Homo sapiens: one gene and its partners. The protein of the gene in region 3 purifies or fractionates together with the protein of the main gene of each other region. This does not show direct contact. Each region holds a gene or a part of one and is shown on either strand. Other genes may lie near its edges. The genes, in order: ZNF512B, SIRT1, MTA1 and CHD3.

The links.
Region 1: the proteins of MTA1 (region 3) and ZNF512B purify together in Homo sapiens (affinity purification with mass spectrometry; 4 studies listed by BioGRID and IntAct, with this or other methods). This does not show direct contact.
Region 2: the proteins of MTA1 (region 3) and SIRT1 purify together in Homo sapiens (affinity purification with mass spectrometry; 4 studies listed by BioGRID and IntAct, with this or other methods). This does not show direct contact.
Region 4: the proteins of MTA1 (region 3) and CHD3 purify together in Homo sapiens (affinity purification with western blotting; 7 studies listed by BioGRID and IntAct, with this or other methods). This does not show direct contact.

The regions. Positions count from the first base shown.
Region 1 is NC_000020.11:63,956,165-63,959,930, reverse strand, and holds the end of ZNF512B (zinc finger protein 512B), read left to right. Parts: coding exon 1-43; 3' UTR 44-3,227; downstream 3,228-3,766. Other genes in the region: UCKL1 (uridine-cytidine kinase-like 1), read left to right, coding at 3,559-3,671. UniProt on the Homo sapiens protein: Involved in transcriptional regulation by repressing gene expression. Associates with the nucleosome remodeling and histone deacetylase (NuRD) complex, which promotes transcriptional repression by histone deacetylation and nucleosome remodeling.
Region 2 is NC_000010.11:67,880,757-67,887,655, reverse strand, and holds the start of SIRT1 (NAD-dependent protein deacetylase sirtuin-1), read right to left. Parts: upstream 3,001-6,899; 5' UTR 2,935-3,000; coding exon 2,505-2,934; intron 2,476-2,504; exon of another isoform or gene 2,257-2,475; intron 240-2,256; coding exon 123-239; intron 1-122. UniProt on the Homo sapiens protein: NAD-dependent protein deacetylase that links transcriptional regulation directly to intracellular energetics and participates in the coordination of several separated cellular functions such as cell cycle, response to DNA damage, metabolism, apoptosis and autophagy.
Region 3 is NC_000014.9:105,443,790-105,450,828, reverse strand, and holds part of MTA1 (metastasis-associated protein MTA1), read right to left. Parts: intron 5,412-7,039; coding exon 5,318-5,411; intron 1,471-5,317; coding exon 1,420-1,470; intron 772-1,419; coding exon 645-771; intron 569-644; coding exon 505-568; intron 1-504. UniProt on the Homo sapiens protein: Transcriptional coregulator which can act as both a transcriptional corepressor and coactivator. Acts as a component of the histone deacetylase NuRD complex which participates in the remodeling of chromatin.
Region 4 is NC_000017.11:7,883,945-7,891,811, forward strand, and holds the start of CHD3 (chromodomain-helicase-DNA-binding protein 3), read left to right. Parts: upstream 1-4,844; 5' UTR 4,845-4,878; coding exon of another isoform or gene 4,879-4,921; 5' UTR 4,922-5,056; coding exon 5,057-5,156; intron 5,157-5,719; coding exon 5,720-5,832; intron 5,833-6,626; coding exon 6,627-6,797; intron 6,798-6,995; coding exon 6,996-7,120; intron 7,121-7,867.

The DNA of each region.
Region 1 (3,766 bases), on a different chromosome or scaffold from region 3:
CACCGGCCGGAAGGTGGGAGTCAGCAAGGCGCCTGAAAAGTGAGCATGGTGCGTGGGGCCTGGCCCCCATGCAGCCGCCACACCGCCCTCTGTTCAAGGCAGGGCCAGCTCCGGGACCTCTGTCCTCCAGTTCTCCATCCCCCACCCCCGCCTCTTCATCCGTCCAGTGGGGCAGCCAGCCACTCTCCCTTCCCTGAAGGTGGCCCTTCCCCTGTTAAGGCTGCCACAGGGCACACCTGGGTTGGGGCTCCCCAAGGTGTGCCCAGCAGAAGTGCAATAGCCAGGAGGGTTGCCCCTCCTCATGGGAATGTGTCTGGGGTCTTGGTGCCACAGGGGCTGCAGCGCAGAGTAGGCAGATGGCCTTTGGCCCCCCGGCTCCGCTTCCTCAGGCCCTGCCGGGTCCCTTCCCTGGCTACCCCAAGGCTCAGGCATCCCTGGTGACCTGTGGTTCTGGGCTGGTGAGGGCACCTGAGCAACCTGGCACGGGCAGCCACCATCCTGGCCTCACCTCCACCCAACACTGGAACTCCAGCACCCCCAGCTACCTCCCAGGACAGACCCCTGTCTGACCACTGCCATGCTGACCTGACAGGCTCCGGCCTGCCCTTGGCCACCCACTTGGTCCCCTTGCTTCTGTTTTCTACCTCTCCAGGCCTGCCCACTACCCCCACCCCTGCTCCTCCTTTGTCAGTGCGATCCCTGCTGTGCTCAGGCCCTGCCCCCCAGGCCTGTCTGTAATTCTCCCAGCTTGGGGCAAGGGAGGGGTTTTGCTTCTTGTACCTACAGGGCAGCAGAAGCTTGATGCCCTTCAACACAGCTGCCAGCCCTGGGGGTGTGGGGCCCCTGGAGTGTGCTCTCCTCCAGTGTTCAGCCTTCTGGCACTGCAGGCCTAGGTTGGAGCAGCCTCGTGGAGTAGGGACGGACTAGTTCGGGCCCTGGGGTCTTGCTGGGGCCCATAGGCATGTGGGGCAGGAAGCTGGGCAGAGCTGGCCTGGCTCTGAGTGGCCACTGGGGGAAAGGCAGCCTTCTGTCTGCCAATCTGGGTAGGCCCAGTGGCCAAGCTCTCATGGGAGCCCCCTCCCCACTTTTTTTTTTAACCTGCCCCCATTGTTTCTGGTTGTGTGGTCATTTGATATGGGAACTGAAGGCCAGCCAGGGGAGGGGCTTGGCCAAAGTCACAGCAGGTTGATGGCAGCTCCAGAGCTGTCTTTGCCCCTTTGTGGCCCTGAGGACGGCTGGGTCTATAGGTAGGGCAGGGGTCAGGCAGGGAGTCCAGGGTGCCTGGAAGAGGTGGCCACAGCCTGTGGCTCCCTCCCTGGGGTCCTGCCTTCCAACCACGGCATTGCAGGGAGGATGAGGCTCAGAGGGGGTAGGTTTGGAGGGAGGCCATTTTCCAGGGTGGGTGGGAGTGGGCTGAGGGCTCGGCCCCACTGACCCTGGACGATGAGAATTTTGATGTTTGCCCGTGTGCGTGTGTCTCCTGGGTGTAGTGGATGCCAGTCTTGTTGCTGTGACAAGTAACAACCTTTTTTTTAAATTGTTTTTTATACAAACACTCGCAATCCGACATTTGGTGCTAAGGGTTTCCTGGTGCAGACGGTGGGCCTGGGGGCTGGGCTGGACCAGGGCGTGGGTCTCTGGGGTTGGGGTCCCTTGCTGCTCAGGGAGGCAGTACTGACTGGGCACTGCCTCTGCCCCCAGCACCCACCCTCCCCCATTCCCCAGGGAGAAGGGGCCCCACTGGGCTTGGCCTGCAGTAGTAGGGAGACAAGTTCCAGGAGCACTTTGGGGACTGGGGTTGCAGAACACTTCCTGTCTCTGGCTTCATCCTTGGGCCAGAAGGCTCCAACCCTCAGCAGCCCTTGCCAGATGTGCCAGGGAGTGGGTGTGGAGACCCGGACTCCCCCCACCCACGCACACCTCGGCCTGATGAGAGGATGGAGGCTGGGGCAGAGATGGGCGTGACCCAGCGTCAGAGGGTCGGGGGAGGCATTCCTTCCTGTGTCCCAGAGCTTCACTGGTGGAGCTGGAGGAGCCGGAGGTGGAGGGTGGGGTCTGGCAGCTGCTGCTGGGGCAGCCTCATGAGGGGAGGGGAGGGGAGGGGAGGGGAGCAGGCACTGGGCGGGGGCCTAGGTGCACTTTGTCCTTGCCACCAATGGCGGGAGGAGGGTGGACCTGAACACCTGCAGGGTGTGGTGCCTGCCCCAGCCTCTCAGGTACTTGGCCCTTGGGGAGAAGAGAAGAGGGTCTGGTTTTTGCTGGGGGTGAGTTTCCGGGACACTCCCAAAGCCCACAGATAATCCCTGGTGTGGGAAGAGGAGTCCTGGATACCTTGATGTTTAGCACTTTAACCCCCTTTGTCTTTAAGGTAGGCGTGGGGGCTACTGCCAGAAGTGGCTGTTGGGTCTGACCCCCTCCTTTCTGCCCTCCCTCTGCCACATGCTGGTCCGCAGAGCCCTCCTCCCAAGGGGTGGGGCCCTGGGTGGAGCTCAGCAGGGTCTGCCCACTCCCTACGCTGGCCCACATAGGCCTCCAGGAGCCCTCAGTGAGAGGGACCAGCATAGCTGACCCCCAGAGTGTGGTGGGCGCCGGCCCTGCCCGAGGCCCAGTCGGGGCCCTTTCTGCAGATCTACCTCTGGCTCAGCGCACGCCCCCTGCCCTGAGAACAGGAAAGGGCCCGGAAGGGCTGACTCACCGGGCCGACGCTCACACGAAAATGGGATGCACTTTATTTGCTGGTGCAAAGGCAGGTGAGGGTGCCTCCTGTGTGACCGTTGGCCCTCCTGCCTGGTGGCGCTGAAGGGAAGGAGCCAGTGAGCCTGACCCCGGGAGGGGCCGTCCCCGTGTGCCGCGTTTGGCGGGGCCCCAGGCGGCTCCCCCAGGCCCGGGTCTGGGGCCCCAGGCTTTCCCCTGCCTCGCGGCCGGGCGTCCCGTGCTTTGGGTTTCTTGGTTTGGGTTTTTTAATGCCAGTTCTCAGTACATAAGTGCATTTTGAAAGAGGTTCCAGCTATCACTTGTAACCATATATATATACATATATATTCTATCTACAAAGTGTTTATTTGCGAGATGTTTCAACGGTGAGTTCGGGCCCCGCCCGCCTTGTGACCATCTGTCCCCGGTCCTCGTCCCCGCCCCGCGCCCTGGTCCCGAGTGGCGTGGGGACGGGCCATCACTGTATGTATTAAAATGACTGTATCAAATAAATGTTTATTGATTTTTTTCCAGGGTTTTTGTGCGGCTCAGTTTGTGGTGAAAAACAGGGGGCGGGGCCCTCCAGGCACGTGGCGGAGGCTGCCGAACTACGGGTCCCCCATGCCCGCCGCGCGGCCTTGTGGGGCTTGTAGTCCGCGACGCGCGGCCTTGTGGGGCTTGTAGTCCGCGACGCGCGGCCTTGTGGGGCTTGTAGTCCGCGACGCGCGGCCTTGTGGGGCTTGTAGTCCGCGACGCGCGGCCTTGTGGGGCTTGTAGTCCGCGGTGGGCAAGAGAGGGACCCGCCAGCTCCCGGCGGCCCATGCGCGCCGCCCGGCCAGGCCCGCAAAGAGGCCTCCGAGCGCCATGGCTGCGCCCCCGGCCCGCGCGGACGCTGATCCTTCGCCCACGTCGCCACCTACGGCCCGAGACACACCAGGCCGGCAGGCTGAGAAAAGCGAGACCGCGTGCGAGGACCGGTAGGCGTGGGCCTCGCCTCCACTCCACTGGCGAGCGGGAAGGGGCTGCAGATCCGGCCGAGCTGGGCGGGTGGTCCGTCCCCGCCGCGAGCCCA
Region 2 (6,899 bases), on a different chromosome or scaffold from region 3:
ACGGTGAGCCGAGATCGCGCCATTGCACTCCAGCCTCCGCAACAAGAGCGAAACTCTGTCTCAAAACAAACAAACCAAAAACCGTACATTTACTCTCTAAAATTAACAGCTCTGAGCCATACCTATCCGTGGCCTTGGAGTCCAGTCACTAGAGCTTGCATGTGAGGCTCTATCCTCCTCATCACTTTCACAGGAATGAAAACCATTAGTGATAATTTCATCACCGAACAGAAGGTTATCTGCAAAAGAAACCAAGTCAGTCAAGGCTATCAAAACAACATGCACCTAAAATGTATGAACGGTTATAGAGCAATCATTTTCATCGAGTACAGCATTTAACATTTACACGGCGTGTGTAAAGCATGCCTATGGGGTCAGCTTGCACTGTTCATTGGAACAGTTTCTTCATCTTTAGGAATTCTGCTCACTCAGTTTCAGCCAAAATCTAAAAATAAATTAAGTCTACTTAAAAAACAGAAAAGATAGCCGGGAGCGGTGGCTCACGCCTCTAATTCCAGAGCTTTGGGAGGCCGAGGCAGGCGGATCACCTGAGGTTGAGAATTCGAGACCAGCCTGACCAACATGGAGAAATCTCGTCTCTACTAATAATACAAAAATTAGCCGGGCATGGTGGCGCATGCCTGTAATCCCAACTACTCAGGAGGCTGAGGCACGAGAATGGCTTGAACCCGGGAAGCGGAGGTTGCGGTGAGCCGAGATCACGCCATTGCACTCCAGCTTGGGTAACAAGAGCGAAACTCCACCTTTTAAAAAAAAAGAAAAGGAAAAAAAAAAAGAAAAGATAATAATCTAGCTAGAATGTATCATACAATCACAAACAATAGCGTTCGTGAAACGTGTAATAAATGGACATTTACATAAAAACGTCATTCAAATATAACCTTGGCAATGCGCACGTTAAACTTACACAATACTACAAGTACCTCTGCATTGTTTCCTCTATTAAATAAACAGTATTAATAACACAATTATTATTAGGTAAATAATAAATTAGTACTCAACTGTGTTGCTTGAAATCAGGGTCTCTTTACTAAATCAGTCCCTAAAAACACATATTACTTTTTTTTTTTTTTTTTTTTGAGACGGGGTCTCACTCTGTTGCCCACCCTGGAGTGCAGTGGCAGGATCACAGCTCACTGCAACCTCGAACTCTAGTACCTGGGACTAAAGGTGTGCGACACCACGTCCCGCTTTTTTTACTTTTAGTAGAGAGGAGGTCTCGCTATGTTGCCCAGGCTGGCCTGAAACTCCTAGGCTCAAGAGATCCTCCCGCTTTGGCCTCCCAAAGTGCTAGGATTACACGAAAGAGCCACCGCGCCCGGCCTGACCCAAATATTGATAAAGATGAACACCTATCAAGGATAGAAACTCCTCAGATCAAAAATAAGAAACCTGACCGGGCGCGGTGGCTCACGCCTGTAATCCCAGCACTTTGGGCGGCCGAGGCGGACGGATCACGAAGTCAAGAAATCAAGACCATCCTGGCCAACATGGTGAAACCCCGTCTCTGCTAAAAACACAAAAATTAGCTGGGCGTGGTGGCGGGTGTCTGTAGTCCCAGCTACTCGGCAGGCTGAAGGAGAATCGGTTGAACGCGGGAGGCGGAGGTTGCACTGAGCCGAGATCGCGCCACTGCACTCCAGCCTAGCGACAGAGCGAGACTCCGTCTCAAAAAAAAAAAAAAAAAAAAAAAGAAACCTTCAAGAACATGACAACTGCAACATATCTGCTTCATTATGCTAGAAGTGTTAAGTTTGTGTCTCAATACTACATACATACAAAAAAAGCATGTTTAGCCCAAACACCATTACCGCACAAGAGCAAGATTAGAATAAAAGTAATATGAACAGCTCTAAAAGTACTCTCTCTCCCATACCCACTCCTAACTGCATTACAGAATGGTAATGTCTTCAGGAACAGCCACGTTCTTTAAATTTTGCAAGCTGTGACTATAGAAACAGCTTTCCTCTTTCAAAAATTGTAATTTCAGTCATAAAAATATAGACCAAAAAAAGCAAACTGCACAGGTGTCAAGTTTGCAAAAAGCAATTGAAAACGCAGACCAACGGGACAGCCAAAAAGTTGCAGACTTAAGTGTGCTGGGGGGTAGAGGAGAAAAGCAATGAAAATAAAAAATAAAGAAAAAGAAAAAAAAAGCTCTAACAAAAGCAATATGCTAAAAGAGTAAGAGGGGGAGAGAAACTTATTTTAAAGCGACTGCGAGAGTCTCCCGACCTGGCTGCTGCGGAAAGAACAAGGCCGCCCAGGCGGGCCACGGACGGAGGAAAAGAGCGAATCCACTGGCAGCTCGCGCAGTAGGAACCGCAGCCCCGGAGGAGCGCGGCTGAACGGAGGGCCGGGGTGGGGAGGGGAACGCCGCGGAGCCTGCCCCGAGCCCCCAGCCGCCCTCAACCTCAGGCCAGTAGGAGCCCGGGGAGAGGGAGGAGGAGATGCGCAGTTCCGGCCGCCCGCACCCTGCGCACCTCGGTACCCAATCGCCGCCGCCGCCGCCTCTTCCTCCTCCTCGCCCTCGTCGTCGTCGTCTTCGTCGTACAAGTTGTCGGCCAGCGGTGGCTCCCGAGATGGGCCCTGCAGGCCCGGCCCATTGTCTCCTTCCCCAGCCGCCGCAGTCGCCTGGGCCTCTTGCTCCCCGCCTGCCGCCGCCGCCTCTGCCTCCGCCTCCCGCCACAGCGCCGCCGCCGCCGCACCCGGGCAGCCCCTGGCCGCCGCCGGCACCTCACGCTCTGGGGCCGCCCCACCGGGCTCGCCCGGGCTCCGCTCGAGGCCGGGACCATCTCTCCGCGGCCTCTTGCGGAGCGGCTCCCCGGCGGGGGACGACGCGGCCTCCCTGTCGGCCCCCGCCGCCGAGGGGGAGCCGCCGGGCTGAAGGGCGAGGGCCGCCTCGTCCGCCATCTTCCAACTGCCTCTCTGGCCCTCCTCCCTCGCCTCCTCTGCTCCCGCTCGACGCGCGGCACTGGCGCCCCCGCGGCTCCGGCTGCGGGAGATTTAAACCCCATCACGTGACCCGCCCCATCGCCGCCCCCGCCCTCTCGGCGCTCCCGCCACCCACGCGGGCCAGACCACAACACTACGGGTCACGTGGCGGGCGGAGGCTGTTGCGTCTACCGCTCCGCCTGGGCTGGAAGCGCACTCGGCCCCGGCGGCCGGCGGCCCTTCCTCTTTGTGGCGAGCGTGTAGTGCAGCCAAATTCGCCCCTCGGCCGCTTTCTCAACTTCTCTTTCAAACTGACCTCAAATCACTACCGCCGGAACAGCTCAAGTTTTGGTCCGCCCTGGGAATTTCCACGTCTTCCTGAAGTGTACACCTGGCCTGCCTTAGCCTTGTCTATATTTAGCTAAGGGTTAAAACACAGCTGAAGCTGGCTAAGACTTAGCTCCCTGAAATACGTTGGATAGTCGTTCTGTTTTGTTAATAAGTAGGAAGAGAGGCAAAAGGAGGCGGCTCCTTTCCCACTCTCCTCACACCGTTCTGACAGCTCCTCTTTTGCTCCTTTTTCTGCTCCTTGCTTTTCTCCTTAGTCGGTTGCTTTTTTCCCCTCTCTCCCATCACTTGTAGGGTGGTATACATTGTAAAATCCTTGAAGGCATATGTCCTCCTGGGAAGACCTTTGACGTGGAGGTTTGGAGATCAGCCGATCTACTTTCTGGCCCCAGCTTGGCTTCAAACGTGTGTGAATTCCCTCCTCCGGGCCTCAGTTTTCTCACGTGCAGAATGGGTTTGTTGGGTCAGTATGAGAGCATGGGAAGGAAATGACTTGGCCTCCATGCACATCTGCCCTTGGTTAAAATTTGGAGTCCTTCCTTTCTAGCGTGAGCTATCTAGCCGTTTCTAAACTTAATTTTTCTCATGTCTTAAATGGTAATAAGTATTTTAAAACGTCATAGATTTAAATGAGATAACCAGATGTAAAACGAGGGGTACCTAGTAGTTCAAAAGGCTTAGTGGAAAGCCCTTCCACTTTCCTCTCTCCCTGAAATTCTGGCACACTGTGACTCCATATCTAATCTTAACTAAGGACCCATATAACCCATGGTAGATCTAGAGCCAGTGTTTGTTATGGCATCTGCCTGGAGCACAGCGTTTCTATCTGTTTAAAGGACCTCTACGAGTTTATGGTACACTGTCCCTTAAGCCTAGTATGGGTTCTGGCCATACTGCATCAATTACCTGCGTGACTTTAGGCAACCAACTTAAAGCTGTTTCTTCATCCTTAAAATAAAAAATAAAAAGCTGGAAATATATCGCTAAGGTCCTATCTACATCCAAAAGTCTTATTTCATCTGGTCACCACTATTCATTTCTGAAAGTAATCATCTCCAGTCCTAGAAGCCTTAAAACCATCTTTGGTTGCGTGGGGGTCAAGGGGAGGGAGAGCATTAGGACAAATAGCTAATGCATGCGGGACTTAAAACCTGGCTGGGCGCGGTGGCTGCTGCCTGTAATCCCAGCACTTTGGGAGGCCGAGGCGGACAGATCACCTGAAGTCGGAAGTTCGAGACCAGCCTGACCAACATGGAGAAACCCCGTCTCTACTAAAAATACAAAATTAGCCGGGCGTGGTGGCACATGCCTGTAATCCCAGCTACTCAGAAGGCTGAGGCAGGAGAATCGCTTGAACCCAGCAGGCAGAGGTTGCGGTGAGCCGAGATCGCACCATTGCACACCAGCCTGGGCAGCAAGAGCGAAACTCCGTCTCAAAAAAAAATATAAATAAAACCTAGATGAGGGGTTGATTGGTGCAGCAAACCACCATGGCTCACCTATAAGTATGTAACAAACCTACACATTCTGCACCTGTATCCTGGAACTTAAATTAAAAAAAAAATCTTTGAAGCGTTCCTTCATACCAATCCCTCTGAAATCCATCTGACCAATCAATGACCAAATCCTGTTGTCCTTCCTTTCTTGCTACACTCCTCCCAATTCCTGACTAGGCACCACACTCCTAGTGGTTGACATACTTGGTCCTCCCCACTTTCTGTCTTACACTACAAAATATTTCATAAATTGACTCTCAGCTACGTTGGTGGAATGCAATATATGAAATGTTGAGAGTCAGTATCCCAATAAAACAGAAACAAAATTCCCAGCTTTTTTGAGAAAAAGATGTCTGTAAGCTTATGAGCATCCTGTTGTTCATTAATTCATTTATATTTATAGTATATTATTGACACGTGAAGTTTATGAACTACAAGAAATGCTATGTGATCAATATTATTGTTAGTATGCTGAGAGGTCAGAGATGCAGTATGCTTTTCAGGTAGGATAAATGAGAAACAGAAATTGTATTACAACAAACACAAAAACAAAAAATCCCAATTAGACTTCTGGTCTACCACTGGTTAAGAACTAACATTAAGGCTAGGCGCTGTGGCTCACGCCTATAAATCCCAGCACTTTGGGAGGCCAAGGCGGGCGGATCACCTGATGTCAGGAGTTCGAGACCAGCCTGACCAGTATGATGTAACCCCGTCTCCACTAAAAATACAAAAATTAGCCCAGAGTGGTGGCATGCGCCTGTAATCCCAGCTACTCGGGAGGCTGAGACGGGAGAATCGCTTGAACTCAGGAGGTGGAGGTTGCAGTGACCTGAGACAGTGCCATTGCACTCCAGCCTGGGCAACAAGAGTGAAACTCTGTCTCAAAAAAAAAAAAAAAAAAAAAAGAACATTAATATTCTGGCTGACTTAGTAGTTCTATTCTCCTAAGTTAATAAATTGGCCTGCCAAGCACGGTGGCTGACGCCTGTAATCCCAGCACTTTGGGAGGTCGAGGCGGGTGGATCACGAGGTCAGGAGATCAAGACCATCCTGGCTAACACGGTGAAACCCCGTGTCTACTAAAAATACAAAAAATTAGCCGGGTGTGGTGGCGGGCGCCTGTAGTCCCAGCTACTCGGGAGGTTGAGGCAGGAGAATGGCGTGAACCCAGGAGGCGGAGCTTGCAGTGAGCCGGGATCGCGCCACTGCACTCTGGCCTGGGCGACAGAGTGAGACTCCATCGCAAAAAAAATAAAAATAAGAATAAATAAAAAATGAATAAATAAAAAAATAAATTGGCCTAATAGCTCTGATATCAGTCTCATGTGACTACAATTAGTAAGGGAGTTAGTATCAACTCTTTTGTACTAATAAAATGTTATTGTCAAAACTGAAAAACACAAATGGAAATCCCTACTTCACACAATATACGAAAATAAATTCCAGCCAGGCGCGGTGGCTCACTCCTGTAATCCCAGCACTTTGGGAGGCTGAGGGGGGGCAGATCACCTGAAGTCGGGAGTTCAAGACCAGCCTGGCCAACATGGACAAACTACTACTGACTCTACTAAAAAATAAATTAGCCAGGTGTGGTGGCACATTCCTGTAATCCCAACTACTTGGGAGGCTGAGGGAGGAGAATTGCTTGAACCTGGGAGGCGGAGATTGCAGTGAGCCGAGATTGCACCATTGCACTCCAGCCAGGGCAACAAGAGCAAAACTTCATCTCAAAAATATAAAAAATTAAAAATTCCAGATGGATTGAAGATCTAAATGAAAAAATACAAAAATAAAAATATGACATTTTAGAATATTTATAACTTTGGATCAAGAAAGAACTTTTTAGCAAGGCAGGAGCCATTTTTTAAATGATAAAAATATTTGACAATATAAAAATTTAAAATATGCTCAAACCTATTAGTAGTCAGGGATACGTAGTGAAAAAATGTCCTAGCCAAGTACAATGGCTCATACCTATAATCCCAGCACTTTAGGAAGCTGAGGTGGAAGGATGGCTTGAGACCAAGAATTTGAGATCAGCCTGGGCCACACAGTGAGACCTCATCTCTCCAAAACCTTTAAAAATTAGTCCAGCAT
Region 3 (7,039 bases):
GACACATTTTTTGGTTGTCACGCCTTGGGGGATGCTATACGGCAGGTTAACACCGTATAATCACAGGTGACCCCCAGATAAGAATCACCTGGTAACACCGTATAATCACAGTGACCCCCAAGGTGGGCCTACCAGGACTCTGCCCACCGCCCAGGAGAGACCAGCCAAGACTCCTGCGAAGACTCAGGTGGCCCCTGCCCCCACCTGCCTCAGCCACACCCTCCCCAGGGGGACCTCCCCTCGCTGGCTGTCTGGGTGGCAGTGGCAAGAGGAAAGAGCTCCAAGCTCCTGGCCCACAACTCTGGACGCGTAGGGTGGGGGCGGCCACACACCAGGACACCTGGAAGTGACAGTCAGGACGCAATCCCCGCTTCCCCCCAGAACAGCCTGGGCCTAGAGGGAGGAGGGAAAATCGTCTCCGCCGCCCAGGCCAGCAGAGGTCATAGGTAGAGGAAACAGTGGCCCGGGACTGGCTGCGGCAGACCAGGCCGGGCTGGGCCTCACCTCCCGCTCCAGGTAGGACTTGAGCGACTCGGTCTCGTTGAGCAGGGTGACGCTGCACTTGCCCCTGGAAGAGAAGGACGGGCAGGCTGGAAAGGCGAGGGCAGCCCGAGGGGCCCAGGGCGGGAGCTGCTGGGGGCTACCTGATGTGCGTGGCGGGCAGAGACTCCAGCTGCCGGGAGAGGAACAGCTCCCGATGCCGCAGCTGGTGCTTTAGTTTCTCGGGCAGGTCCACCATTTCCGGGTTCTCCATTTCCTCTTCTATTTCCCCTGAAGGACAAGGAGCCCCTGTCAGCACCGCGGCAGACGCACACTGCCAGACCAAGGCCCACCCCACCAGCCCCACCTGGCGCCAGCACGCAGGAGGCCCAGTCCTGGGAGGCGTGCCTCCTCCTGCTGCCGGACACTGTCCCACTGCCCCACCCTATGGCGGCCCGGCGGCTCCTTGGCAGGTACCCCTGCAGACACTCTGGTGCCCACGTGCCCTTTAAGTCCAGGCACCCTAAAGGCCCAGACTCCCCAGGGCATGAAGATGGAAGGAGGAGGGAGAACAAGGTCCGGGCCAGCCCCAGAAGCAGCAGGCAAGAGCAAGAGGAGCGGGGGAGTCGGCGGCTGCCAAGAGCCCAGGCCAGGAGGGCGAGGGGCAGCCGCCCTCTGTCCGTCCCCATCTCGTGGCCAGACAGCCCCATACAGCCCACCACAGACCTCCCACACCAGCAGGTCACCCTCAGGCCGGGGCCGCACCAAGCCTGGGCCGTGGGCCGGACACAAGGGAGGGCCCCTCCTCAGCCGGGCCGGCCGGGCGCAGGGCACAGGCATGCAGGCGGCCCGCCCAAACTCTGTCCCTCAGCGGCGCTGCCGCCCCCAGCCCAGGGACACAGACAGGAGGACGCCCTCCTTGCGGAGGCCGGCTCTTACCTTCCTCGCCGTTGTCCGCCCCCGGTCCGGCCTTATAGCAGACTGACAGGGCTATATAACAGACAGACAGCACCCGGCAGCACGGTCAGCACAGGGTGGCGGCCTGCTCCCTGCCCAGGGCCCGGACCGAGGGCTGTGCCGCCAGGGGGCAGGGCAGAACGGGGGCCGCAGGCCTCCCGGTGGGGCGTGAAGACCACCCGGTTGAAGATCATCTGGGCCTCGACGTCCCCCCACTCTGGCTGCCCATCCACCCAGTGCCAAGCCTCTTTGGGAAGAGCCCAGACAAGCCTGGCTGTGGAGGGCCCCTGTCCAGAGGCCACCCCTGCCCCCACTCCACTGGGGCTTCCCAGAACAGGCTGTCCAGATGAGACCGGGGCCGGGCACCGGCCAGCAGCATGGGGATTCCTGCCCTGTGCTAGGAACCCAAGTAGGGTTCTTATAACACCCAAAATGGGGGCGTGCAGTGGTGCTCCCCACCGCCCCTCGCACGCTCAGCACCGGCCGCCAGTGGGCCACTCATCCCGCTCAGCGCCCTGCCGGCTCTCTGAGCCCAAGGTCCCCAGATGGGACCACAGCCAGCCGGGCTGCTCGCTCTCTGCGGCCCCCTTGTGGTGCCTGCAGGAAGTCCTGGCTCCTCTGGGCCCTCCCAGGCGCCAACAGCTAAGACTGAGGCTGGGAGCAGCCATGCTGGGCCTGTTCTGGGCCGGCCCTATCTGGGCCTCAAAAGCCTGGGGTGTCTGGCGGCTGAGCCTCACCTCCTCCCGGTCCATAGAACAGGGCAGGGCCGACCAGGACAGCCCCAGTCCTCTCATCCCAGGCCAACACATCTCACTCGCTCCCACTTCTGGGGACCCACGAGCAAACTGCACCCTGAACTCAGACATCACCAGGGCCCAGAGGCCCACACACCAGCCCCAGACCAGAGGCTGGCTTTTGTTCACGCCCGCCCTATGCCAGGCCCCATCCGAGCACTGACCCAGCCTGGACAGGAGCCCACAGCGGCTCCGAAACTCCCATTTCACCAGCGTCCCGGTCAGCAGAACAGGGCTCTGTGGTGCAGCCTGTCGGAGATGCGGGCGAGGTGGGCCTACAGCTCCTCAGAAGACCCTCAACAGGCAGAAACACCCAGGCAGGAGGTGGGGCTGGCTAGTGTACCCTGCACCCCTCACACTCTGAACCCTCCCTCAGACCCTGGATACACCCCTAAGCGTGAGGCCCAGGCTGTGCCCTCACTCCCACTCTTGGCTGTGGTCTCCAGGGCCCCCACGCCCTCCTCTGAGGAGGGACGTTCCCCTCTCCCTGTCATTCTGTCCTGAGAAAGGCTTCATGCTCACAGCCCTGCCGGGGGGAGGGCTTCTCTGCCACAGGGGCCACAGTGCAGCCTGGCGGGTGTCTACCCTCCACCCTGAGGCCTGCACTGTGGGCTGGACGCCCCAGCAGGGGCTGGGTGGAGGCAGTGACGTGGGAGAGCCAGAGGCCTCCCAGAGTGTCCTCACACCTGTCCCTGGGATCAGCTGGGGGCCTCACCCTGGCTGCCATGAGCTCACAGAGAAGCAGGAGAAACGGAGATTGACACAACCCCGGGGGGTGTGGGCCCTGCAGAATCACCGCAAGGCCCAGCCGCCAGGCAAGAGTGGGGCCGCGCTCTGAGTCCCTGGACCAGCGGCAGACCCATCACCCATGACGCCTGCTCCCTGCAGCTGGGCTCTCAGTTCATAGGAACGCCCTGCAGAGGGGCCGCCACGCAGCTTTCCAGGGAGCACCGTCCAAAGGGGCTGTGCTGTGTACCTGGGGGGGCCAGTGCTCGAGCTGGGACACTGCTCTCCACCCAGTCCTATCAGCCCCAACGAGGCCCTTCTGGAAAACCTGCCCTCTGATACCTCTAATCACGTTATGTCTGGAGTCCCCTTCTGGGGCTCTTCCAGCAAAAGGCCATCCTCTGGGGCGTCTGAGAGCAGAACCTCAGCCAAGGGGGCCACAGTACCCTCAAAAACCACTAAACCACTGATACAGGCTCTCTGGAGCAGGGACACTGTGCCCCCAGGTGCCAGAGGACAGAGACAGGATCCACCCTGGGCCAGCCATAAACATGCCCAACTCAACGGTGGCGCCTGACTCCCCAGGCCACACAGACTGGCAGGGCCACACTGCGGCCGCTCAGCCTGGGCACTGCTTCTCCAGCGGGCCAGCCCGCTCCCCACCACTGCTTCTCCAGCGAGCCAGGCCGCTCCCCACCACTGCTTCTCCAGCGGGCCAGCCCTGCAGAGTCGACATAGGCCAGCCTCCAACACTAAGAACCGCCAGCCGTGCTGCTGACTGGCACCCAGCACCTGCAGGGCCAAGGGCCACACCAAACACCCCTCCAGAATGTGTAGCCTGTGGACCTTCAACATCCCCAGCTCTCCTCCTTGGTGCCTGGAGCCCGCCGAGTGCAGCAGTGGAGTACACAGGCTTTGGGGTCAGAGGTCAAGGATCACCATGCCCCACCTTGAACGCTCCCCTCCTCTGAGCAGAGAGCTAGGAGGTCCAGTTCCTCACAAAGCCAGAGAAAGCCCATGGTCAACTGGCAGCTCCCTTTGGGCCAGCCACAGGCCCCACAGCCCAGTGTCCAGAGTGGACCCAGGCTCGGGGGCCCGGCCCAGCTGCACTGACCCAGGGCAGCTCACGTCCGCATCCACTGGTTGCTGAGGAAAGGTCCCAGCTGTCCGGTGGGCAAGGCAGTGGGGTTAAGGGACACCTTCCTTCCACAAGCGCCTGCCCTGGCCGACTCCCAGCAAAGGCTCAGGAACAAGGCATCGGTGGCAGGATGGTCTGTCCTGTCCCTAAGCCCCTCCCAGAGCAGGGGGAGGTTGCCTGGGCTGACTTCCTGCCCCTCACCCACAGCGCTGGGACGGGGCAGAAGATGCGAGGGTCCTCCCACCCGACCCACCGCAAACCCACAGTCCCTGGACCTCACCCCATTAGGGGTCGTGGGAGGTTACAGGTGGGACCTTGGCCCACCCCAGCGACACGGGTACCCGGGCAGTCACATGCCTCACCTACTGGGAAATGTCACCCTACAGACCACAGCCTCAGCCTGGGCTCAGATCCCACCCCAGGTGATGTGTCAGAGTGGAAGCCAAAAATGCCCCTCATGCCTGCCCCCACCGACACATGAAGGGCCTCAGTGGGGTACCACACTGTGTCTGGTGCAGGTGGGGCCCAGCTCGGCAGGCCCTGTGTCAGTAGCATGTGGAGGGCGTGGGGGTGCCTCTGGCTCCTGGCTCTGAAGTCAACATCCCCCGGCACAGGAGACTCCACCACCTGCGAGCACCTGTTCCCGGGGGAGAAGCTGGGTCCCCAAGGCTGAGGGCATTCCCATGCAGCCAGTGGCTTCCTCCCACACGCTGTGCTGGCCACAGCAGCCCCTCCCAGCCAGGTTACTAAACTTGGGTTTGAATCGTAAAGAATAAGGAGAGGACTGCTTTCCTGAAAACACTACTCAGAATCCCAACAGAAGCCTCTCCGCAAAATTAAAAAGAGAGAGACATTGGCAAGTGCAGGCAGCAGGGTCCCACCAGCCTGGAAAGTCTCCAGAAGTCATCATAGAAGGGAAAAAGAAGCCTCGATCAATGATGCCCACACCCAGCCACACCATGACAAGCTTGCAGAGGATGCCAGTGAGAGACAGACCACTCCGGGGGGCGTGCGAGGACTTCATTCACCCAGCCCCCGAGGAAACGGAGCCAGGACACCCCCGCCCACTGTGGAAGGGAGAAAAAGAGACGCCAGAGTGAGTTGGGCAGAGGGTGGCCCCACGAGGCCAGGATGCCGATGGGCCCTAGGGAAGAAGGACCCCGCCAGCCCTCCCCAGCCGACCCTCCCGCCAGGCGGGCACCCCAGGGAAGGCCGGACTCACTTGCGTGCTTGTCGGCCAGGGCGATGAGGGTGCTGGAGATGTCCCGCCTCCGGTAGAAGCACACCACTTTGGCCTCCACGTTCCCATTGGCCGTCTGTAACAGCAAGGCAGGGGCGTCTGAGAAACGCGACCAAACCCGGGCTGCACAGCTCCCAGGAGGGGCTCCAAGGCCGGACCCTGCCGTCCAGGGACTGCAGGTGTAACCACACCACCCCTCGGGACTCCAGGAGGGCACTTCACAAATGGAGCAAATCCTGCAGCTCTGGACGCCCGTGGCGTCTATCCCAGGGGAGAAGGCGGGCGTGTGCACCCAACCTCAACCTGTGTCTCCATTCTCCCTCCCTTCCAGACCCCAGTGTACCACCTGAGAACAGCAGGGTCCCAAGGAGGAAAAGGCCCCCGCCACACTGGGTAGGACCTCAGTCAGCTCCTGGGAGGCCACGCCCAGCTATCCCAGCCCCTCTGGGGTGACCTGCACAGCAGCCACGGCCCTAGCGGCGGACGCAGCCTGGACCCCCCGCATGGGACCAGCCCTCCCACCTGGCCTGGCTGACAAACGTCTCCAAGTCAAGACGGCTGTAAAACGCCACCAGAGAAGCACGTATGTTTTCTGAACGAGTTTTTATAACATCTTTGCTACTGCAAGAATTGTGCTGTAATTCTAATCACAGTGCAAGTGCCTAATGGAATACTATTTATAACTCTTTTTTTTTTTTTTTTTAAGATGGGGTCTCACTCTGTCGCCCAGGCTGGAGTGCAGTGTTGTGATCTTGGCTCACTGCAACCTCTGCCTCCTGGGTTCAAGTGATTCTCCTGCCTCAGCCTCCCAGGTAGCTGAGATTACAAGCGTGAGCCACCACGACCAGCTAATTTTTGTATTTTCAGTAGAGACAGGGTTTTGCCATGTTGGCCAGGCTGGTCTGGAACCCCTGACCTCAAGCAATCTGCCTGCCTCAGCCCCACAAAGTGCTGGGATTACAGGTGTAAACAGCACCCAGCCTCACCTAACTTTTTAATTTTTTGAGATAGGGTCTCACTCTGTTGCCCAGACTAGAATGCAGCAGTGTGATGTCAGGTCACTGCAGCCTCCATCTCCCAGGACCACAGTCCAATTACACCATGCCTGGCTTTTTTTTTGAGACAGAGTCTTGCTCTGTCGCCCAGGCTGGAGTGCAGTGGTGCAATCTCGGCTCACTGCAAGCTCCGCCTCCTGGGTTCACGCCATTCTCCTGCCTCAGCCTCCCGAGTAGCTGGGACTACAGGCGCCCACCACCACGCCCGGCTAATTTTTTTGTATTTTTTAGTAGAGACTGGGTTTCACCGTGTTAGCCAGGATGGCCTCGATCTCCTGACCTCGTGATCCGCCCGTCTTGGTCTCTCAAAGTGCTGGGGTTACAGGCGTGAGCCACCGCACCCGGCCTTTTTAGATGGAGTCTCACTCTGTCGCCCAGGCTGGAGGGCAGTGGTGCGATCTCAGCTCACTGCAACCTCCACCTCCCGGGTTCAAGCGATTCTCCTGCCTCAGCCTCCTGAGTAGCTGGAACTATAGGCACCCACCACCACACCGGCTCATTTTTGTATTTTTAGTAGAGACGGGGTTTTACCATGTTGGCCAGGATGGTCTCTATCTCCTGACCTCGTGACCCACCCGCCTCAGCCTCCCAAAGTGCTGGGATTACAGGCATGAGCCACCGCACCCAGCCAACCTGGCTAATTTTTAAA
Region 4 (7,867 bases), on a different chromosome or scaffold from region 3:
CAATTTATGCTGATGTCAGACTGAGCATGAGTACTGATTAATGCCCCCCCTCAAATATTTTTTATAAGGGGGGAGTTAGTCACAGCAGCCATTTTTGTTTTATGCAGAAATCCTTCATGCCCCCCCAACACACACACACACACACACACACTTCAGTACACAAGGAAAATATCTCTATTAATCTGTGCACTAATCAGTTATGAAAAAGGAGAAATTTGTGGGTTTCTGGGTAAAGGCTTGGAGATGGGGGTGTAACAGGGAGGAGAATGGGGGGGTGAAAAATGAAATATTAAGCCAGCCATTTTGTTTGAAAAGGGGATTTTCCCCCCTCTCCCTTTCTTTATGGAGGGGGTGGCGGTGCTGGAGGGGGGGTTGTTTTAAAAATAATTTCAAGGCGGCCATCTTAGTGCCTCAGCTCTGAGAAATATTTCTGAGCGCCCCCCTCAGAATTTAAATATATTTAAAGCAACGGAGAGGGGGGCAGAGAGAAGTCGAAAACTTTTATATATATACATATATATATATATATATATGTATATATATATATATTTTAAATCCCCCTTTCTTGTTCTCTTGGGAGGAAAGAGAGAAGGAAAAAAAGTCTTTCCTCAATTTTTTCCAAGACAATTTTTGGGGGTGGTTTGGCCCCCCTCCTCAGACGGCGGCCCCGAGGGTGGGGGTTTCGGAGGGGGGTGGCCCGGGGGTTTGGGGGGCTGGGGGAGGCGGTGAGGAGGAGGAGGACGCCGCCGCCGAGGAGGAGGAGGAGGAGGAGGAGGAGGAGGAGGAGGAGGTGGTGGTGGTAGCGGTGGGGGAGGCGGGCGGGCGGTGGGTGGGGGGGTGGTGGGGGGGCCAGAGCCACAGGATGGCTTCCCCTCTGAGGGACGAGGAGGAGGAGGAGGAGGAGATGGTGGTGTCGGAGGAGGAAGAAGAGGAGGAAGAAGAGGGCGACGAGGAGGAGGAGGAGGAGGTGGAGGCGGCCGACGAGGACGATGAGGAGGACGACGACGAGGGAGTACTCGGGCGCGGGCCGGGCCACGACCGGGGCCGCGACCGCCACAGCCCCCCCGGCTGCCACCTCTTCCCGCCGCCGCCGCCGCCGCCGCCACCGCTGCCCCCGCCGCCGCCGCCCCCGCCGCCAGGTAAGCGCCCGCCCCGACTCCCCCCCCAAGCCCGAGTGGGAGCCGCGGGCGCGCGAAGCCGGGCGGGGGCGAGGCACCCACCGCGCGGCCGAGCCGAGGCGAATCCGGAGCGCGAATCCGGGGCTCGGGCCCGTGGCCCCGCGGCGGTCCGGGAGGTCGGGGCGGGCGGTGGCGGCTGCGACCGCGGGGCCAGGCCTCCTCCCCTCCCCCGCCGCACCCCTCCCCCGCCGCCGCCGCCGCCGCCGCCGCCGCCGCCGCCGCCACCCCGGCTGGAGAGCGCTGGGCGCGAGCTGCGCGCGCGGACCGGGCCACTCGGTCGCGGCTTTCGGGGGAGGAGGAGGAGGAGGTTTTTTTTTTACCCTCGGCGGGGAGGGGGTAGGCAGGAAACGGCCAAGGCGAAGCCAGGGCCCCCTCCCTGGCCGAGCGAGGGACCGCCGAGACCCTGGCGGCCGGACGGCGGCGTGGGGGAGGGGCACGTGGGGGAGGGGCGGCCGCGCGAGCGCCCCTCGGGCTCTGGCCCCGGTGGGGTTGGACCGAGGGAGAGTGGGGTTTCCCCGCACGGAGCAGCCGACGGGCCTGCCCCCTCCGCTCAGGACTTGGACAGGCAGAGTGGGGACGGTGTCCATCGGACCCCCCTCCACCCGCGGAGACTTAGGTGCCCGCCAACTGAGGGGCATGCGGTGGCACGCGAGGGAGGGGTCTTGTGAATGTTTGTGGGCTGCTGATGAGTAGGGGCAGGTGGTGGCCACAGTCCACGCAGACCACTTCCTGGAATAAGGCAGGAGCTCGTCCCCTCGCTCCCCCAGCCTGTGCAGGGACAGCAGTCCATTCGGATTGGGGAGCGGAGAGAAGAGTGTCTGGGGAACCAGATACCCCCGGCTCCACCCCCTTCATCTCGCCGGGGCTCTGGGCTCTTTTGTGTCAAGTGCGGTGGGGGGGGTCCCCCTCTTGACCCCGTCAGTCTGGGGTGGCCAAGCTGCCCAGCTGTGACTCTCACGTGGCTGCCATTCACTGTCACTCACTCTCTCGCTGAAACCACCCACTCCCTGAGCACGTTGGGGGGCGTGAACTGCCCACCCAGCTGTTCTGCAGCTTGACCATCACTCAGCACCCGTCCCCCGAGGTGACAAGTCACCCGGCGGCACTCTCTGGGCGGCGCTCTCCAGACCGCTGCGCCGCGTCAGGCGCCCAGCGGTGTCCCCCTCAGACCACCCTCCTAGTGGAGTGATTTCTAGTCTTCTTTGGGATAGGTGAGCATCTGGGTGTCCACACCCCCTGCTTGGGGAACAGCAGGGGGACCTCCGCACCCCCGGGCCTCTGGCTGCCATGCGGCACAAATGCACCAAACTTCAAAACGGCCAACTCCGGGCTCTTTGTAAAACTGTCATATTGATCCGTGTGGCTTCTGTGGCAAACGTTCCTGTCTAGCCGAGACGACCTTTGGGGGAGCGGGGGGTGCTTTCTTGTGGGTCGGGGAGGGATGTGTGTCTCCTGGAAACTGGATAAAGTCTCCCCGCCCCCCAAGCTTGTCTGAAAAAGGGTAAAGTTTTGAAAAAGTTCTCCCAGAGAGCCCCCTGCCTTGGCAGGAGGAGGAGGAATGAGGAGTTGTGGGGAGAGGGTGCCTTTGGGGTTGCCTCCGGCAGAGGCGCTGAAAAGAGGGAAAGAAAGGCCGTCAGGTCCTGCCAGGGGCTTGGCAGCGCTCACCTATTTGTATTGGGACTTGGAGTCTGGGGTGGGGTGGTGTGGGTCCCGGATCTGGGTACGTTGGGGAGAGAAGCGTGAAAGGATCCGAGGTTGAGATGGGTCTTTGTGTCAACCCGGCCTCCCCTTTCCCTCTTGGCTTTCTGAATAGACCAGAAGAGACGTCAGAGGCTGCTTACATTTTACAACTGAAATGAAAACCCACCTCCCCTCTCCCCCTGGGCAATTTTTATCTCCCTTTCAGCCCTCCAAGTCGAATGAGTGACCCAGATACACCCCCTCAGATGACTTTCGGAGGTAAAACTTCGGGAAATTATTTTTAGCACACTCATTATTTCTGTCTACCTAAGTGTGGGGAAAAGAACCCTCCTCTAAGGAAATTTGTTCAGGCTGCCCTCGCTCTTCCTTGTCTAGAGTATGCATTTGTGCACAGGAGAGATTTCCATTGTTTTCCATTCCGACTGCTTTGATTCTCACCATTTTGTTTTACATTCTTACTCAAGACCAATTTTATCCCTTCCCCCTCTCTCCAGTCTCCTTACATTGTTAAACGTTTAAAATAATAGCAGTCGTGTTGGTGGGGGAAGGGAGCAGGAAGCCAAAAACTCATTTCTTCTCCCTCCCCCTTCTGGCAAGTCGAGAGAAATAATATAACATAATATATAGATGTGATTCCTTGGGGGTGGGGGTGGGGAATGATTGTGGGTGGTGCGGAAAATTCTGGTAGTTTCTTTGCAAAAGGTCTGAAAATACAAACCCACCCCCTGCCTGCAGTACGCATGTGCAGCAGACCTATTATGGTGGTGCGTTGTGGGGGAGGGAGGGGAATTTGAGAAAAAATAAATATATGTGTGAGAGATTGATGGTGAGATTAGAAGAAGAGAGGGGCGGGCGGGAGGCGAGGCTTCGGCCGAGACTCCTCCCGCTTGCTCGGGCGGCCAGGCTCCGCCCTGCGCCCTCCGGCCCCCGCCTCTCTCCTCCCTGCCTCCCTGAGATCCGAGCCGGGGATGTGGGAGAGTCTGGGCTCCAGGCCAGCATTGAGTGGCTGCTGAGACCGAGGTTGGGACTTAGATTTGCTTTATTACCCTTCCTTGCTTTTCCTTGCCGTTCTCGCTTTGCCTCTCCCGCCACCGACGCCTGCCCAAGTTCGGGAACCTCCCGCTGGGGTGGGGAGTAGAGTGAACCGGCTTGTGCACCACCCCTGGCTGGTGGTGGCCGAGGCCGTGTCCCTGAACCTTAGCCAGTTGGCCTGCCCTTGCCACTGCCTCGGCAGCCTGCGTTTCCATGTTCAAGTCAACCGAAGTCCCTGGGGCCAGGGGGAGCCGGCTGCTGGGGCATGGCGCCTTCCTTGCTGACTTCCTATTACAGTCCCCATTCCGTTTCACACCCGGGCTCTGGCAGCCACCCCCCTGCACACACGCACACAGTCCTAGAGTGTCTTCCTGCACAAGGGGACACAGGATGCTGGAGTTAGCAGGAAAGGTGGCACTGAAGGAAGGCGAGGCAGCGACTCTGAGGCAGTGGAAACGGAGGCCTCTGGTGTTAATTGTGGCTAATTTTCCGTTGGCTGTTGAGGGAAGGAGAAAGGATTGTGTGTCCTAGAGCTAGGGGCTGGGCCAAGCCCAGGCTTTCCCATCTTGCATCGGCTGCCTCTCTCTGTACTAGACAGGTCTGGCTGGTTAGTCTAGTGCTTGGTAGGGGAGGGACGTGAACCAGAGCCCCAGGGCCCCAGGTCTGTGGGGCATCCTGTCTTCCTTTATGTGGGGTAACTCTCCGTTCCGTTCCCCAAGCCTTCACAGAGTGACACCTTCACAGATAATGGGGTGGGGGGCCTGGGGTCCTCTGGCAGAGACATCTGGGGAGAAAGCCAGGGACCTATCCCTGCTGAAGCAGGTACAGGCCATCCTCTGGATTTGTGGGCCTGAGAGTGTGTGTGGGTGTGGGTGCGCGCGTGCGCGCGCGTGCTTTTGAGAAGGCATATGCTGGGTGTGTCTGTCTGTGCCTATATCTTTGTTTGGGTCTCCCATACTGCGTATAGATGAATGGGTCAGGATATCTGGAACAAAATATGGAGGTGAAGGGTGAGATCGGGAAACAAAGGGTATGGCCCCCTAGTTCCCAAAGGGAGCAGGGAGATGGGAATAGAATTGAAGGTAGGTTTTAGGCTACTTGGGAGGAGGAATATTTAGGTAATTGTGGAGACTTTCTCCTGTGTGATGAAGGCGGCAGACACTGTGATCCTGTGGGCAAGAAGTAAAAATGACCAGCTGAGGATTTCTTTTCCTCCAGGACTGTGTTGGGGTGACAGGATGCCTGGTAATTATCCGAGGAAATGTAAATAGAGGCCTCCCTCTTGGCAAAAGGATGTCAGGGCCCCAGGGTGTTAGTGTGAGAACCCAGGTGTCCACCTTTGGCTCTCCCTCCCCAGCATCTGGCTTAGGGAGCTGCCAGCTTGTGTCTCCCCACTCCAAGTGCTGGGGTCAGGCCAGGCCAGCAGCTGGGCATGGCTTCCCCAGTTCCTGGGCAGGATGCCAGCTGGCGAAGTGAGGGGGAAGGCAGGAGGAGCCCTGGCGGTGACTGAAAGGACCTGCCACAGTCAGAGCCCATGGCCTGGAGCCTGGTCTCTTGTTAGTAGGAGGGGAGGGAGGGGAGTGGTTTGGCTGCTCTTCTCTTCTGACCCCTGACCTCCCATTCAGAACCAGAGCATCCCAGAGTACTCGAAACACTTTCTGTTTGCATCCAGTGAAGGGAGGCAGGGCTTGGAGGAGTTAATGCTTCCTAGAGAGTGGGAACTGCCGAGGTGGGGAAGGGGCAAGTTGAGGGGCCTCAGAGGCTGGAAACCTAGAGGCTTAGGTTTTCTGATGCTTTTTGCTTCAAAGATAAGGATGACATTCGGCTGCTGCCGTCAGCATTGGGTGTGAAGAAGAGAAAACGAGGACCCAAGAAGCAGAAGGAGAACAAGCCAGGAAAACCCCGAAAACGCAAGAAGCGTGTAAGTGTCAAGAATTCCTAACTCTGTGGCAAGGCTCAAGAGACCCATTCTCAGAGACCTACATTTTCTCTGGTCCTGATTACTGGTGTGGGGGTGGGGTTCTGAAGCCAGGGAGGCTTGATCCCCCGGGCCCCCCACTTCCCTGCCACTGTTGGCCTGTATCTCAGGGATCTGGGACCCTAACTTCATTCACTGCAACCTAGTGAAGAGCCTCGTTGTCAGTGTGTCCTCAGCAGCAAAGAGAAGCAGTTGAAAGCACAAGCTCTGGAAGACTGTATGAATTCAAGAGTCCAGCATTCCTCTGTCTAGGATACCAGGCCGTTTATTTGGCTCTCTGTGCCTTAGTTTCCTCATCTGTAAAAAGTAGATAAAGGCCGGTTGCAGTGGCTCACGCCTGTAATCCCAGCACTTTGGGAGGCTGAGCCGGGTAGATCATTTGAGGTCAGGAGTTCGCGACAAGCCTGGCCAATGTGGTGAAACTCCGTCTCTACTAAAAATACAAAAATCAGCCGGGCGCGGTGGTACGTCTGTAATCCCAGCTACACAGGAGGCTGAGGCAGGAGAATCGCTTGAACCCGGGAGGTGGAGGTTGCAGTGAGCCGAGATCACGTCAGTGCACTCCAGCATGGGTGACAGAGCAAGACTCCATCTCCAAAAAAAAAAAGGAGATAAAAAATTAGTTACTATCACAGGATTGTTGTGAAGATTAAAAGAGGTAAGATATGGTATGTGCTGAGAACAGTTTCTGGCAATGGTAGGGATGAATAAATGTTATTTTTATTTCTTTCTCTTAGGACAGTGAGGAGGAATTTGGTTCTGAGCGAGATGAGTACCGGGAGAAGTCAGAGAGTGGGGGCAGTGAATATGGAACCGGACCGGGTCGGAAACGAAGAAGGAAGCACCGAGAAAAAAAGGAGAAGAAGACAAAGCGGCGGAAAAAGGGGGAGGGAGATGGGGGGCAAAAGGTGAGTAGAATTAGGGAATGAGAGTGAGAAATCTGCATTAAAGACGGGCATGAGGAGGGGAGGAATGGAGACTGGACTGGAGAATGGGGCAAGAAGCAAGAAAGCCCAGGGAAGCTAGTGGGTAGGTAGACAGGCCTGTGTGCGGCCTGGAATAGGGGCTGGAGGAGCACCTACTTCACCAAAGCCCCTCTCCCGCAGCAAGTGGAACAGAAGTCATCAGCAACTCTGCTTCTGACCTGGGGCCTGGAGGATGTGGAGCATGTGTTCTCTGAGGAGGATTACCACACGCTCACCAACTACAAAGCCTTCAGCCAGTTCATGAGGTGCGGTAAGACTGGGGAATCCTCGCTAATTGACACTTTTAATTTGAGGGAGGTCCTGGACCCCTTGGAATCTGATGAAAGCTATGAAACTGCTCTCCAGAGAATTCACGGTGTATACACACCAAATTCTACACGTCATTTCAGGGAACTCCTAGACTCATAAGGATCCAAGAACCCCAGTTGAGAACTCTTCACTGAGGGGCGAGGGGTGGAGGGGCCATCATGATTCCAGTGCTGGGTTAGAGAACTCTTTAGCAACAGAATAAAGTGAGGACAGAATATAGTGAGCCCTCCCCTGCCCCAACAGCTCCATCTTCTGCTCTGTGACTTCTCTCTAGACTGGACCTGAGAGATACCATCAGTGTTCCTGAACTTCCTTAGCTCACTTAGCAGGTCCTGTGCCCCTTCCTTAGGCCCTGGTAATAATGGAGGGTCCACTGCTGGCAGTGGGACCTGAGCTTCAGTGGCTCCTGAAGAAAAGTAGAGAATAGTAGAGTAGAAAATAGCAGAGATGGGCCAGGTGCAGTGGCTCATGCCTGTAATCCAAGCACTTTGGGAGGCCAAGGCAGGTGGATCGCCTGAGGTCAGGAGTTCAGGACCAGCCCATCCAACATGGTGAAACCCCGTCTCTACTAAATACAAAAAAATTAGCTGGGCGTGGTGGCACATGCCTGTAATCCCAGCTACTCGGGAGGCTAAGGCAGGAGAATCGCTTGAACCCGGGAGGCAAAGGTTGTAGTGAGCCGA